Regions from separate parts of the Homo sapiens genome. Here region 2 is linked to region 1. A link means that fine-mapping ties the variant in region 1 to the expression of a gene that starts in the linked region. Tissue or cell type: lung. Region 1 holds a variant in brackets; the other region holds the start of a gene. All regions are shown on one strand. Distances are from middle to middle.

Region 1 (8,260 bases):
TGTGACTGCCAAGAGGGTCACTTCACCTCTCTGAGCCTCGGTCTCCCCATCTGCAAATGTGAAATACCAGGCTGCAGAGTTATAAAATAAAGAGAGATAACAGATGTGAAGCCCCTAGCCTTGTACCTGGCTCGTGTATTGGAAACCATCATCATCAAGGATCTTTGTTATTACTAGTGAGGACCAGTGACAGGAATGCTGCCTAAACGTGCACTCTCCGACATCCCAAAGCCAATGCCAGAGCTCACAGTTTAGTGAGCGTCACAGCCACAGCTAAACCCCACTGTGCTCACAACATCTCAGACACACAGACGCAGCCACAGGGACTGCAGCTGGCAGAGGGACACAAGACCTAGGCCCCAAGAATGTGCAGAAATCCCATGCCCTCACCCCACACCACTGTGGTTCAAACGACTGGCTACTCAGTGTCTCCTTATCTGCCACCGTGTCATCACCCCCACTTAGAACCCTTGCAAGAACTGTCCAAGAATTAGCAAGAAGCTCAGAGAACTCAGAGTCGTGGCCAGACCTCACCAAGATAATGCCACAAGATCTGTGCCCTTTGTCAGACCATGGATTTCTGTGTGGGCCCCCTCTCAAACGATTCATCTAATCAAATACTAGAAGACTTGTCCCAACAGGACCTCTACCCCAAAGGGACTATATTCCCTTCTTGGACTTTCCACACCTTCTCTCTCAAGGTCCACACCTCCATCCCCCAACAGACCCTCATCTTCAACCTCACAAAGTAACCAGAAGCCATCCACTTAAAGACTCCATGAGTTCCCTTCACTATCTAGCAACCCCCAAATCAACCTCACCTCTTCTGAAGGGACCTGTCTCATGCGTAAAGCCAGCTAAGCATCCTCTTTCTGGCTCCTTCTCAGCCCATCACCTTCTGATGCTCCACGGATAAAGACCAATACCTCAACTCCGACATCCTACAGGGCTGTGTGGCCTGGCCCCCACCCACCTGTCCAGCCCACCCTCCCCTCTGCCCAAGCCACACCAGCCTCTTCCACACCATGGTGGGTATTTTACCCCTTCTTCTTTTTTTTTTGAAGCGAAGTTTCACTCTTGTCACCCAGGCTGGAAGGCAGTGGTGCGATTTCAGCTCACTGCAACCTCTGCCTCCTGGGTTCAAGTGATTCTTCTCCCTCTGCCTCCCAAGTAGCCGGGATTACAGGTGCCTGCCACCATGCCCAGCTATTTTTTGTATTTTTAGTAGACATGGGGCTTCACCATGTTGGACAGGCTGGTCTCAAACTCCTGACCTTGGGTGATCCACCCGCCTCAGCCTCCCAAAGTGGTGGGATTACAGGTGTGAGCCCCCACGCCCGGCCTGTATTCCTTCTTCACAGGGCCTTTGCACATGCCAGTTCCTGCCTTCAGGGCTCTTCTCTCCACCCAGCCCCCTCCCACCCTAGAAAGGAATCCTCTGGTTGGCTCCACTTCACCATCAGATCTCACCTTCAACCCCACCTCCTCAACAAAGCTGCAGGTCCCCTCATTCCAGGGGACGTTCCTTTGTTCCACAGGTGTGTGAACACCTGTCCCTCATAACATTTACCTCAATTTGTCACCAAACACTCAACTGTGGACCCTTCTCATTCATATCTGCTTTCCCACCACACTATAGCACAGAGCCTTGTCTCTGTTTCATTCATTCAGTCAACAAATGGCCGGGCACGGTGGCTCACACCTGTAATTCCAGCACTTTGGGAGGCTGAGGCAGGCAGATCACCTGAGGTCAGAAGTTTGAGACCAGCCTGGCCAACATGGTGAAACCCCGTCTCTACTAAAAGTACAAAAATTAGCCAGGTGTGGTGGCAGGTGCCTGTAATCCCAGCTACTCAGGAGGCTGAAGCAGAAGAATAGCTTGAACCTGGGAGGTGGAGGTTGCAGTGAGCCAAGATCGCTTCATTGCACCCCAGCCTGGGCGACAAGAGCGGCACTCTTGTCTCACACACACAAACACAAAACAGAAAATTATGGGACATCTACTCCCGCCAGGCTTTGGCTAAATGAGGGGATACTTCAGGGAAGAAGGCAGATAAGGTCCCTGCTCTCAAGGAGAGGGAAAGGAAAAAGTCTAAGAAGGAAAGAGAGTGATGTGACACAGAATACCTGGAAAGGGAGGACTGTCAAAGAAACGGCAGTGGGAAGACCTCTCAGCTGGTACTAAGGCACACAGGCACAGCACAGAGAAGGCGCACAAATATTGGCTGCTGGAATGAAGGGATGAACCTCCTGACAGTTAATTCTGTACTACTAGAACTCTCCATCTTCACGAAAACAATGCATTGACCCGAGGCGATGGCGCACACCTGTAATCCCAGCACTTTGGGAGGCCGAGGCGGGGGGATCAAGAGATCGAGACCATCCTGGCCAAAATGGTGAAACCCCGTCTCTACGAAAAATACAAAAATTAGCTGGGGGTGGTGGCGCGCGCCTGTAGTTGTCCCAGCTACTCGGGAGGCTGGGGCAGGAGAATCGCTTGAACCCGGGAGGCGGAGGTTGCAGTGAGCCGAGATCGCGCCACTGCACTCCAGCCTGGACGAAAGAGCAAGACTCCGTCTCAAAAACAAAAAACAAAACAAAACAAAACAAACAACAACAACAACAAAAACAATGCATGGCTGGAAGGACAGCAATATTTTATCCCCATTTTAAAAATGGAAACTGAGGCCCAGAAGGGGTCAGTAACTTGCCTGCAATTGCAAAGTAATTTAGAATTGTGGAATCTAACACTTCCAGTTACAACTCCCTTTTTCAAGCCCATTTTCTTTTGATCCCCTTCAATATCTCCTTTCACGGTGAAGAAAAGTTCTGAGACATTAAGCTGCTTGCCCACGGCCAGGGCTTGGCATGACCGAGGCCGGGCCTGCGGCCAGTGGGCGGCGCTCGCTCTCCCACGCCAAGGCCTGCCCGCGAGCCGTGGGCCCAGTACCTTGTTGGCCAACTTCTTGTTCAGCTCCTCGGCAATGGAGTCGTTGAGCTTCCTCTCAAACTGCCAAGGGGGGATCCGGACGGTGTCCACCATTTCCACCAGGACGAACATCCCGGCCTGCGCTGGGGGCTCTGGGAACAGGAGGGTCAGTCACGCACCAGGGCCGGGGGCAGGGAGAATCCCCGAGCCCCTTGGTCCCGTCCCAGTCGCTGAGGCCCCCAGGCTGGCGGTGAGGTTGCACGGGGCGGTCTCGGGGGCCCGGTCCGGGCCATGCTCCGCTACTACAACATGAGGAAACTGAGGCCAGAGGGAGGCACTCTCCGTCCACAGCTCCGGGTGCGCGCCCGCGCCGCGAGACCCCGCCACGCCACGCCACTCCACGCCACGCCACTCCACGCCCCGCACCCGCGCCACGTGCCGCCGCTCGTATCACGCACCACGCACCACGCACCGCGCACAGCCGCTCGCGCTTGCGCGACTGCGGGCGAGATTCCGAATCCATCGCTTCCGGAAAACTCACCAATAAGAAACCTCTGTCCACCCCCACCCCGCCGAGGCGGGGCGGGGCTGCCTGTGTGCTCGCGCACAGCGTGGGGCAGAGAGAGGGCGAGGAGAGGGCGGGGCCTCCTCCTTTCACAGGAGCAGAGCGGTTCCCCCGCCCCCGACAGCGCTTTCTGTTGCTAGGCGACCTCCGTGCAATCCCGCCTGATTATCCCTCGCCTGGCCTGTGCTTTACCCGCATTGCTGTCCTCTGCTCGGCAGCCAGAGTGATCCTTTGGAAACGCAAACATATATTACCACATCTAAGTTAAAAAAAAAACCCACCGCAAACATAACATGCTTAGCACCCTTAAGTGTTCCGGAGACAAGGAGAATT[A/G]GCAGGAAAGGGGCACTTGGGACTGTTCTGAGATGATGGAAATGTTCTGTATTTTGTTTTCGGTGGTATAACATTGACGTATATAATTGTCCAAACTAATTGAACTCGGCAAGATTTTTGCATTTATTTGTAGACATTATGTTCCAATTGAAAAGTTATAATAAATTGGAACAAAAAACACAACCCATTGAACTTAGAATACTAGATCCAAGCCGGGCGTGGTGGTGTACACCCGTAGTCCCACCTACTCAGAAGCCTGAGACAGCAGCATCGCTTGAGTCCAGGAGTTTGAGGTTGCAGTTTGAGGTTGCATGCTGCACTCTAGCATGGGTGACAGTGACACCTCATGTCTAAACGAAAAAGAAGAAGAAGGAGAGGCGGAAGAAGAAGAAAGAAGAAGGAGAAGAAGAAGAAGAAAGAAGAAAGAAAAGGGAAAGAAGAAAGAAAAGAAGAAAGAAAGAAGAAAAGTCCAAAACCTTTATGGTAGTTCACACGGCCCTGCAAGATCTGACCATACCCCCCTCCTATAGCCCCATCATGCTCTGTCTCGCTGACATTCCAGTCTCATTCATCTTCACGTGATAGCATGGGCTAAGAGAATTTGGTAGCTTACCCAAGATCACGTGTTGACAAGTGGTAGAGGTGGGCCCAGTCTGAACCTCACTACCCTGCCTCTAAAAATTGGTGGGGTGTAGATGTATACTGTAGTGGGTTTTTTTGTTTGTTTGTTTGTTTGAGACGGAGGATCGCTCTGTCGCCCAGGCTGGAGTGCAGTGGCGCGATCTTGGCTCACTGCAAGCTCCGCCTCTCGGGTTCACGCCATTCTCCTGCCTTAGCCTCCCGAGTAGCTGAGACTACAGGCGCCCACCATCACGCCTGGCTAATTTTTCGTATTTTTTTTTAGTAGAGACGAGGTTTCACCGTGTTAGCCAGGATGGTCTCGATCTCCTGACCTCATGATCTGCCCACCTCAGCCTTCCAAAGTGCTGGGATTACAGGTGTGAGCCACCGCGCCCGGGCTTGTAGTGTGTTTTAACCAAAATAACAATTTAGGTACTTACAAAAGATACTTGGGGTAAATGACAGAGGCACTTGGAAATGTATGGTGCCTTAATTTGCTGATTTCACAAGCATAGTGATCTCTCAGTGACACTGGCTGCAGTGATGCTAAATGTGGCCTTCCCTGCATCTATGATTTTATTTTTAGGTGTGCTTCTATAGGATTTGAGGTACTTGAGGACAGCAGCAAATGCTACTTCAGCTCTTTATTCCCACAATCCCCTAACACATTCCTAGGAAGCATTGAGTAAAGGTGTTTAGGGATTACCATTAATTCTTCCTCTCAAATGTTTCCTCTTCATTCCACTCCCACTGCTATTGCTTCGGTTCAGGCCTTTTCTTTTTTTTTTCTTTTGAGACGGAATCTTGCTCTGTCGCCCAGACTGGAGTGCAGTGGCATGATCTCAGCTCAATGCAACCTCCACCTCCTGGGTTCAAGCGATTCTCCTGCCTCAGCTTCCCAAATAGCTGGAATTACAGGTGCCCACCACCACACTTAGCTAACTTTTGTATTTTTAGATAAGATTTCACCATGTTGGCCAGGCTGGTTTCGAACTCCTGACCTCAGGTGATCCCCCCCATCTTGGCCTCTCAAAGTGCTGAGATTACAGGCATGAGCCACCGTGACTAGCCAATATCTGGTCATTTAAAAGTATGTGGCGGGGCCAGGCGTGGTGGTTCACACCTGTAATCCCATCACTTTGGGAGGCCGAGGTGGGTGGATCACAAGGTCAGGAGATTGAGACTATCCTGGCTAACACGGTGAAACTCTGTCTCTACTAAAAATACAAAAAAAAAAAAAAAAAAAAAAAAGTAGCCGGGCGTGGTGGCACGCGCCTGTGGTCCCAGCTACTTGGGAGGCTGAGGCAGAAGAATCACTTGAACCCGGGAGGCAGAGGTTGCAGTGAGCTGAGATCACACCACTGCACTCCAGCCTGGCGACAAAGTGAGACTCCGTCTCAAAAAAAAAAAGTGTGTGGTGGCCAGGCGTGTGGCTCATGCCTGTAATCCCAGCACTTTGGGAGGCCAAGGTGGGCGGATCACCTGAGGTCAGGAGTTCAAGACCAGCCTGACCAACATGGAGAAACCCCGTCTCTACTAAATACAAAATTAGCCGGGCGTGGTGGCGCATGCCTGTAATCCCAGCTACTCAGGAAGGCTGAGGCAGAAGAATCGCTTGAACCCAGGAGGTGGCGGTTCTGGTGAGCAGAGATCGCGCTATTGTACTCCAGCTTCGGCAACAAGAGCAAAACTCCATCTTGAAAAAAAAAGTGTGTAGCACCTCCCTCCTCCCACTCTCTCTCTTGCTCCTCTTTTCCCCATGTGATGTGCCTGCTCCTCCTTTGATTTCCGATATCATGGGAAGCTTCCCGAGGCATCCCTGGAAGCTGAGCCTATGCCAGTACCATGCTTGCTGTAAAGCCTGTGGAACCATGAGCCAACTAAACCTATTTTTTTTTTTTTGAGACGGATTCTTGCTCTGTCGCCCAGGCTGGAGTGCAGTGGCATGATCTCGGCTCACTGCAAGCTCCACCTCCCGGGTTCATGCCATTCTCCTGCCTCAGCCTCCCAAGTAGCTAGGACTACAGGCACCCGCTACCACGCCCAGCTAGTTTTTTGTATTTTTAGTAGAGATGAGGTTTCACCGTGTTAGTCAGGATGGCCTCGATCTCCTCACCTCATGATCCACCCGCCTTGGGCTCCCAAAGTGCTGGGATTACAGGCGTGAGCCACCGTGCCCAGCCAGCCTATTTTCTTTATAAATTAACCAGCTCTGTTGCCCAGGCTGGAGTGCAGTGGCGCTATCAGGGCTCACTGCAACCTCCACCTCCCCATTTCAAGCGATTCTTCTGCCTCAGCCTCCAGACTAGCTGGGATTACAGGCGTGCACCACCACACCTGGATAATTTTGGTACTTTCAGTAGAGACAAGGTTTTGCCATGTTGGCCAGGCTGGTCTGAAACTCTTGACCTCAAGTGATCCTCAGCTTCGGCCTCCCAAAGTGCTGGGATTACAGGCATGAGCCACCACTACCAGCCAGGTATTTCTTTTTTCTTTCTTTTTTTTTTTGTGCGTGTCACCCAGGTTGGAGTGCAGAGGTGCCATCTCAGCTCACCGCAACCTCCGCCTCCTGAGTTCAAGCGATTCTCCTGCCTCAGCCTCCTGAGTGGCTGAGAGTATAGGCACATGCCACCACGACTGGCTAATTTTTGTAGTTTTAGTAGACACGGGGTTTCACCATGTTGACCAGGCTTGTCTCAAACTCATGACCTCAGGTGATCTGCCTGCCTCGGCCTCCCAAAGTGCTGGGATTACAGGCGTGAGCCACCACGCCAGGCCCAGGTATTTCTTTATAGCAACGTGAGAACAGCCCAAAACAGAACCCACATGTGATGCTGTTCTCATTCATTCGTGCATTCATTCAACATACTGTTGTGTACAGTTGTTGGAGATGCAATGCAGAAGAAAAACTGGGCCTCAAACCGAGCTTCAACTCAGAGCACTTGGTGCTGGAGTTGGGGGGCAGCAGGGTGGGCACTGAGAGAAAGAGCGAGTTTGTACTCTCAGGTAATTAAAAGTATTTGGAGCCAGGCACAGTGGCTCATGCCTATAATCCCAACATTTTGGGAGGCCGAGGCAGGAGGATTGCTTAAGGTCAGTTTGAGACCAGCCTGGGTAACAAAGTGAGATACTGTCTCTACTAAAAAAATAAAATAATTAGCTGGGTGTGATGGCACTTGCCTGTAGTCCTAGCTACTTGGGAGGCTTAGTTGGGAGGATTGCTTGAGCCCAGGAATTTGAGGCTTCAGTGAGCTTTGATCATGCCACTGCCCTCCAGCCTGGGTGACAGAGCAAGACTCTGTCTCTGAAATAAATAATAATATTCGGGCTGATTTACATGGGAGATGACAACTGGTAAGCTAAGAGGTTAGAGACCTAAGCAGCATCCAGATCAGAGGGCCTTATGATTATATTAACAGCTAACATTCATGAGCACTTACTATATGTCAAGTACTACTTAGGTGCTTTATATGCATTAAGTTTGATCCTCAGAACAGCTGTATACAGTAGGAGCTATCATCGTTATCTCACTTGCCCAATTGTCTCATTTTGCCTCATCTAAGGTAAACAGAGGTTAAGTAGGTCATTCAAGGTCATACAGCCAGTAAGTGGCAAACCTGGGACCCAGGCCCCAGAGTCCCTAATCACGACCACCAGGCTGTGCCCCGCCATGACGTTAGAAGTCAGGAGTTCGAGACCAGCCTGGCCAACCTGGTGAAACCCTGTCTCTACTAAAAATACAAAATTAACTGGGCATGGTGGCGCATGCCTGTAATTCCAGCTACTCAGGAGGCTGAGGCAGAATCACTTGA
Region 2 (8,000 bases), 45 kb after region 1:
AAGACGCCCAGGAATCTCTCAAACTCCCCACTCCCTCTACCCCCAGCCTCACTCCTACCTTCATCCCCGTCACCCAGCTGCTCAGCGATCTTACAGTAGTCAGAGCCGCCCACCACACCGATCTGCACTCTACTTCGTAGCTTCTGCAGGAAGGCGGCCACCTCAGGGTCAATTTTCTATGGGGGGAGAGGGGAAGCATAGCATTCTGGCTTTCAACATGTCTGGGACCTCCACTTAGCCCTCACTTAGTGCTGAGAACCCAGGAAGCCCACATTCTACCTGGATCTGAAGCAGTACAAAGCTTAGACACCAAAAATTAGACAGGTTGGACACTGTGGCTCAGGTCTGCAATCCCAACACTTTGCGAGGCCAAGGCAGAAAGATCACTTGACCCAGGAGTTTGAGACTAGAGCCTAGGCAGCAAAGGAAGACATTGTCTCTATGAAAAAAAAAATTTTTTTGGAGACGAATTTTTGTTCTGTCATCCAGGCTGGAGTGCAGTGGTGTGATTCTGGCTCACTGAAACCTCTGCCCAGGCTGGAGTGCGATGGCGTGATCTCAGCTCACTGCAACCTCTGCCTCCCGGGTTCAAGCGATTCTTCTGCCTCAGCCTCCCGAGTAGCTGGGATTACAGGCGCCTGCCACCATGCCCAGCTAAGTTTTAAATTTTTAGTAGAGACAGGGTTTCGCCATGTTGGCCAGGCTGGTCTTGAACTCCTGACTTCAGGTGATCCATCCGCCTGGGCCTCCCAAAGTGCTGGGATTATAGGCGTGAGCCACCGTGCCTGGCCGAAAGTTTTTAAAAATTAGCCAGGCATGGGCTGGCACGGTGGTTCACACCAGTAATCCCAGCACTTTGGGAGGCCCAGGAGGGTGGATCACTTGATGTCAGGAGTTCGAGACCAGCCTGGCCAACATGGTGAAACTCTGTTTCTACTAAAAATTAAAAAAAAAAAAAAAAAAAAATTGGCCATGCGCGGTGGCTCACGCCTGTAATCCCAGCACTTTGGGAGGCCGAGGCGGGTGGATCACAAGGTCAGGGGATTGAGACCATCCTGGCTAACATGGTGAAACCCTGTCTCTACTAAAAAATACAAAAAAATTAGCCGGGCGTGGTGGCACGCGCCTGTAGTCCCAGCTACTCGGGAGGGCTGAGGCAGGAGAATGGCGTGAACTTGGGAGGCAGAGCTTGCAGTGAGCTGAGATCACGCCACTGCACTCCAGCCTGGGCGACAGAGCGAGACTCCGTCTCAAAAAAAAAAAGAAAAAAAAATTAGCTGGGCGTGGTGGCAAGCGCCTGTAATCCCAGCTACTCAGGAGGCTGAGGCAGGAGAATCCCTTGAACCCGGGAGGTGGAGGTTGCAGTGAACCGAGATCATGCCATCGCACTCCAGCCTGGGGGACAAGAATGAGATTTCATCTCCAAAAAAAAAAAAAAAAAAAGATATTAGCCAGGCATGGTGGCACTTGCCTGTAGTCCCAGCTACCAGCTACTCCAGAAGCTGAGGCGGGAGAATCACTTGAGCCCAGGAGTTCGAGGCTGCAGTGAGCTGTGATAGCGCCACTGCACTCCAGACTGAGTGACAGAGTGAGACCCCGGTCTCTAACAACAACAACAACAAAATAGCATCACAATCAAGTTGATTTTTGAGGAGCCAAAGAACAATAACAAAAATAGCCTCACAAAACAATGCTTAATATTTGCTCTGGGCAAATAGATCCAGATAAAGGCCTGGAGGGAAGCCACACCACAGTAACCACATTAACTTGGGGAGCCGGCCAGGCTCCCCAAGTGCGGTCAGAGTGGACTTTACCCTTCTCTGTTACGTTTCCATTCTTTACCAGGAGAGTGTGCTCATGAAAATGTGTACGATTAAAAATTAACTTTCAAAAGGCACTAAGCACAGAGGCTGGCCCGTAGACAAATTAATAGGCTGTTCTTATTCAGGTTGTTATGTTTGTGGAGCAAAAGGTCAGAGGGAGGAGTCAGAACTGTGCCTAGGCCCTGCCACTTTTGTTCCAGTTCTTTTATTCATTTATTTGTTTGTTTGAGACGGAGTTTCACTCTTGTTGCCCAGGCTGGAGTGCAATGGCACAATCTTGGCTCACTGCAACCTCCACCTCCTGGGTTCAATCGATTCTCCTGCCTCTGCCTCCCCAGTAGCTGGGACTACAGGCACACGACACCACGCCCATCTACTTTTTGTTTTGTTTTGTTTTGAGACTGAGTCTCCCTCTGTCGCCCAGGCTGTAGTGCAATGGCACATTCTCGGCTCACTGCAACTTCTGCCTCTCGGGTTCAAGTGATTCTCCTGCCTCAGCCTCCCGACTAGCTAGGATTACAGGTGCATGCCACCACGCCTGGCTAATTTTTTGTATTTTTAGTAGAGATAGGGTTTCACGATATTGGTCAGGCTGGTCTTAAACTCCTGACATCGTGATCTGTCTGCCTCGGCCTCCCAAAGTGCTGGGATTACAGGCGTGAGCCACTGAACCCAGCCTAATTTTTGTATTTTTAGTAGAGACGGGGTTTCACCATGTTAGCCAGACTGATCTAGAATTCCTGACCTCAGGTGATCTGCCCACCATGGCCTCCCAAAGTGCTGGGATTACAGGCGTGACCCACAAGCAAATGGCCCACCTTTGCTCCAGTCCTGCTATCTTCCTCCCGGATCCACCCCTGCAGGAAGGCCTCCAGGGCCCAAGCCAGGGCAACTTCACCACAGAGGATGGGGAGGGGCATTCGGGACCTAAGAGAGGAGGCTAAGACCTGGGTTCCCATCAGCCACTGCCCAGTAAAGCCCATCCCACTGCTCCCCCACGCTAGGAGACCTGTTGGTTGGTCCTTGAGGCCCCCAGACTGGAGGGTGGGTTACCCACAGGGAGGGCATGAATGAAGCCTGCTTACTGATGCATCCAGCTGGTGAGGGGGCTTTTGGGGACTCACTCACAATGAGACCCAATGGGAGAAAAACTGAGCAGAGGTAAGAGGCTCAACACAGCGAGAGTCTTTAGAAGAAAACTAGACTCTTACCCTCACTATTCCTCAGTGTCCTCACAGCAAACAGGCTAGGCCTGGAGCCTCTCACATCCGGGTGGGTAGAGCTCATAAACGAATTTGAAAAGAAGCCCTCTCTGCTCCACGACTGGGGGTGGAAGGTAAAGTGGGTGATGGGGCTTCAGAAACTAGACCCAGTCCCAGGCCTGCAAAGGTCGGGGTGGGAAGACTCCGAGACGCCCTGTCTCCCACCAGATGATGACTGACGCTTGGCTGTGTGCTTGTGTGCCTGGAACCCCGGTTCAGAAGCCAGCTCCGACCACTGGTGTGTCGTAGGGCTGAACTAGGGTGGGATCCCCAGCTCAGGAGGCGGGGGCGTCCGTGAGCCAGGCCTTAGCGGCGTGTGACAGCCTCCGGGGAGGGAGGGAGCTAGGCCCCTGCTCGCAGCCTCCTCCCTCCAGTACTGGATCCAACCCCAGCACTCCCAAGCAGAACACAGGCAAGGACGCTGCGGGGTCAGTGACGTGAGGGCCAGGTCCCCTCACTCCCGGTGGGTGGCCCCGGATGTCAGGGGGCCGGGTACCGCCGCATCCCACACTCGGTCCCCGGGTGTCCACGGTCACGCTGCTGCAGACCCCACACTCAGCCTCGGGGGTGTCCGCGTGACACTCCCGGTGGGAGCTTCCAATCTTCAGGGTCCTACCTGGCGAGCCGGCGTGAGGGTCCCGTCCACGTCAAACAGGCAGAGGACGCGCTCCTTCCTGCGGGCTGCCTGGGCGGTGACTGCCATGGCTGCAGGTCCGCGCGCGGGGCGGAGTCCCGAAGATGCAACGGCAGAAGCAGCTCAGGGATAAGTGCTGACGGGGCGGGGCATTAGGGGGCGGGGGCCAGTGGACTGCCTGATTGGCCAAATGAAGAAGGGGCGTGGTCTAGGCGGGCGGAAGCGGGGGCGGGGCCTGAGCTGATTCTCATTGCTCGTGGAGGAGGGGAGCGCGGCATAGGGCGGAGCGGAGCCCTCCAGGTTCGATTGGATTGCTCCAAACAAGGCGGAGGAGGGGCCTGAGCCTGGGACCCGCAGGAAGTGAGAGGGTGAACCCGGAAGACAGGGGCGGGGCCAGAATTGGCGGGTTGATAGTGATTGCAACAGGCCGATTAAGGGGCTGGGTCGGGCGGGGCCTCTACCATGCAGTGCAGTGTCTAGTGGGCCAGGCGGGACTAAGAGAGCCGAGGTCGCTCCCCATCCACTCTCACAAGGTTTGTGGCCATCTCTTTGCCTTACAAATTTTGAGCTGTAGGAAATCTCCTGAGCCGGGCGCGGTGGTTCACGCCTGTAATCCCAGCAGTTTGGGACGTCGAGGCGGGCGGATCACCGGAGGTCGGGAGTTCGAGACCAGCCTGACCAACATGGAGAAACCTCGTCTCTACTAAAAATACAAAATTAGCCAGGCGTGGTGGCGCATGCCTGTAATCTCAGCTACTCAGGAGGCTGAGGCAGGAGAATCGCTTGATTCCAAAGAAGCCAGAGGTTGCGGTGAGCCGAGATCGCGCCATTGCACTCCAGCCTCAAAAAAAAAAAAAAAAAAAAAAAAGGAAAGAAAAGAAAAGAAAAGAAATCTCCTGAAGGCCTTTGTTCAGGCTTTGGACTTTGCCAAATTGCCTTCCCCGAGCCTTATTCCTTCTGTCCACACATAAGACCCAGCTCTCAGGGTCTACCTGCTTGGAGACCTTCCCAGATTCTTCTTTTTTTTTTTTTTTTTTGAGACAGAGTCTCGCTCTGCCCAGGCTGGAGTGCAGTGGCGGGATCTCTGCCCACTGCAACCTCCACCTCCCAGGTTCAAGCGGTTCTCATGCCTCAGCCTCCCGAGTAGCTGGGACTGCAGGCGTGTGCCACCATGCCCACCTAATTTTTGTATTTTTACTTACTTTTATGTTTATTTTATTTTATTTTTGACACAGGGCGATTTATTTATTTATTTATTTATTTTTTGAGACTGGGTCTCACTCTGTTACTCAGGTTGGAGTGCAGTGGCATGATCTCGGCTCACTGCAACCTCCGCCTCCCAGGTTCAAGTGATTCTCCTGCCTCAGCCTCCTGAGTAGCTGAAACTACAGAAGTGCGCCACCACGCCCGGCTAATTTTTTTTTTTTTTCTGAGACGGAGTTTTGCTCTTGTTGCCCAGGCTGGAGTGCAATGGCACGATTTCAGCTCACCACAACCTCTGCCTCCCGAGTAGCTGGGATTATTTTGTACCCACTACCACGCTCGGCTAATTTTTTATTTTTAGTAGTAATTTTGTATTTTCACCATGTTAGCCAGGCTGGTCTCGAACTCCTGGCCTCAGGTGATCTGCCTGCCTCAGCCTCCCAAAGTGCTGGGAATACAGGCATGAGCCACCGTTCCCAGCCAACCTTCCCAGATTCGATTCACAATTATTTAACCATTGCGTTGACTTTGGAGTCACTTCCAGGTTGCCTTCCCAGCTCCACCACTATGGGACCTTGGACAAGTCACTTCACCTCTCAGAGGCTTTGTGTCTTCACCTATAAAATGGGATGAACACCACCTGCTTTGTAGGTTTGCTTTTCACATGAAAATAAGTAACAGGCTGGGCGCGGTGGCTCACGCCTGTAATCCCAACACTTTGGGAGGCCGGGATGGGCAGATCACCTGAGGTCATGAGTTTGAGACCAGCCTGGCCAACATGGGGAAAGTCCGTCTCTACTAAAAATACAAAAATTAGCCGGGCATGGTGGCAGGAGCCTGTAATCCCAGCTACTTGGGAGGCTGAGGCGGAAGAATCACTTGAACCTGGAAGGCGGTGGTTGCAGTGAGCCGAGATGATGCCACTGCGCTCCAGCCTGGGAGACAGAGGGAGACTACACCTCAAACAAACAAACTAACTAACTAACTAACTAACTAAATAAATAAAAAATAACTGTAGAGCTGGATGCGGTGGCTCACACCTGTAATTCCAGCACTTTGGGAGGCCAAGGTGGGTGGATTGTTTGAACCCAGGAGGTCAAGATCAGCCTGGGCAACATGGCAAAATGCTGTCTCTACTAAAAATACAAAACATTAGCCAGGCATGGTGGCAGGCACCTGTGGTCCCTCAGGAGGCTAAAGTAGGAGAATCACCAGGAAGCTGAGGCTGCAACGAACCAGATCTTCCCACTGCACTCCAGCCTGGGTAACAGTAGTGAGACCCTGTCTCAAGAAAAAAAAAAAAAAAGATGCAGATCATATGAGTCAGCAATTCAACTTTTAGAAAATAGGAAAAGAGGCTGAGCGCGGTAGCTCACGCCTGTAATCCCAGCACTTTGGGAGGCCAAGGCAGGCAGACCACAAGGTCAAGAGATCGAGACCATCCTGGCTAACGTGGTGAAACCCCGTCTCTACTAAAAATACAAAAAATTAGCCAGGCGTAGTGGCGGCACCTGTAGTCCCAGCGACTCGGGAGGCTGAGGCAGGAGAATCCCTTGAACCCGGGAGGCGGAGCTTGCAGTGAGCCGAGATCACACCACTGCACTCCAGCCTGGGCCATAGAGCGAGACTCTGACTCGGAAAAAAAAAAAAAAAGGCCAAGCGCGGTGGTTCACACCTGTAATCCAGCACTTTGGAAGGCTGAGGTGGGCGGATCACGAGGTCAGGAGATCGAGACCATCCTGGCTAACACGGTGAAACCCCATCTCTACTAACAATACAAAAAATTAGCTGGGCGTGGTGGCGGGTGCCTATAGTCCCAGTTACTTGGGAGGCTGAGGCAGGAGAATGGTGTGAACCTGGGAGGCGGAGCTTGCAGTGAACCGAGATCACGCCACTGCACTCCAGCCTGGGCAACAGAGCAGACTCCGTCTCAAAAAAAAAAGAAAGAAAAGAAAATAGAAAAAAGGAAAAATATATGGAATTGTTTAAATGAACTAAGACCCATCTAGAAGATGAAATGCTACGAAGCCATGAAAATCTGCATTGTGTTTGTGTGCGTGTGCACGTGTGTGTGTAGAATAGGGTCTCACTATTTTGTCCAGGCTGCTCTCAAACTCCTGGCCTCAAATGGTCCTCACGACTCAGCCTCCCAAAGTGTTGGGATTACAGGCGTGACCAAAGTGTTGGGATTACAGGCCTGACCCACCGCACCAGATCCCCAGGCACAATTCTTGTTTTTCTGACTGGGTAGCTATGGTGTCCTGGAGAGATCATTGGAGTTGGAATCAGGAGAACTGCAGTTTGGTCCTGGCTAACTACAAGGACTTGGACAGGTCACCTTTCCTCACTGGGCTTCAGTTTCTTTATATGTAATGAGGATATAAACCCCACGTGATAGAACTATGAAAGGTGATGAGAGGTGACAGCGTACTAGCAGCCCTCGCTCACTCTTGGTGCCTCCTCAGCCTCGGCGCCCATTCTGGCCGTGCTTGAGGAGCCCTTCAGCCCGCCGCTGCACTGTGGGAGCCCTTCTCTGGGCTGGCCGAGGCCGGCGCCGGCTCCCTCGGCTTGCGGGGAGGTGTGGAGGGAGAGGCACGGGCGGGAACCGGGGCTGCAAGCGGCGCTTGCGGGCCAGCTAGAGTTCTGGGTGGGCGTGGGCTTGGCGGGCCCCGCACTCAGAGCGGCAGGCCGTGCCGGCCCGAGCAGTGAAGGGCTTAGCAGCCGGGCCAGCAGCTGTGGAGGGTGCGCCGGGTCCCCCAGCAGTGCCGGCCCACCGGCGCTGCGCTCGATTTCTCACAGGGCCTTAGCTGCCTCCCCGCTGGGCAGGGATCGGACCTGCAGCCCGCCATGCCTGAGCCTACCCTCTGCCGTGGGCTCCTGCGCAGACAGAGCCTCCCCGGCGAGCGCCGCCCCCTGCTCCATGGCGCCCAGTCCCATCGACCACCCAAGGGTTGAGGAGTACGGGCGCACGGCGCGGGACTGGCAGGCAGCTCCACCTGCAGCCCCGGTACAAGATGCACTGGGTGAAGCCAACTGGGCTCCTGAGTCTGGTGGGGACTTGGAGAACCTTTATGTCTA

Evidence for each region. PIP is the estimated chance that this variant, and not a neighbour inherited with it, causes the effect.
Region 2: it holds the start of PMM1, and the variant in region 1 is fine-mapped to the expression of PMM1 in lung (TOPMed, PIP above 0.99).

The regions. Positions count from the first base shown.
Region 1 is chr22:41,541,041-41,549,300 of GRCh38, forward strand. It overlaps POLR3H (RNA polymerase III subunit H), which reads right to left and starts at 3,430. Exons shown (of 6, transcript NM_001018050.4): 1 at 2,951-3,430. The coding sequence starts at 3,061. RefSeq lists enhancers at 2,791-3,628, 2,951-3,050, 3,061-3,150 and silencers at 3,201-3,330, 3,521-3,620. The variant A/G (reference allele first, on the strand shown) is at 3,828.
Region 2 is chr22:41,586,018-41,594,017 of GRCh38, forward strand. PMM1 (phosphomannomutase 1) reads right to left here and starts at 3,823. Exons shown (of 8, transcript NM_002676.3): 1 at 3,702-3,823; 2 at 59-176. The coding sequence starts at 3,788. RefSeq lists an enhancer at 2,948-3,627 and a silencer at 4,022-4,171.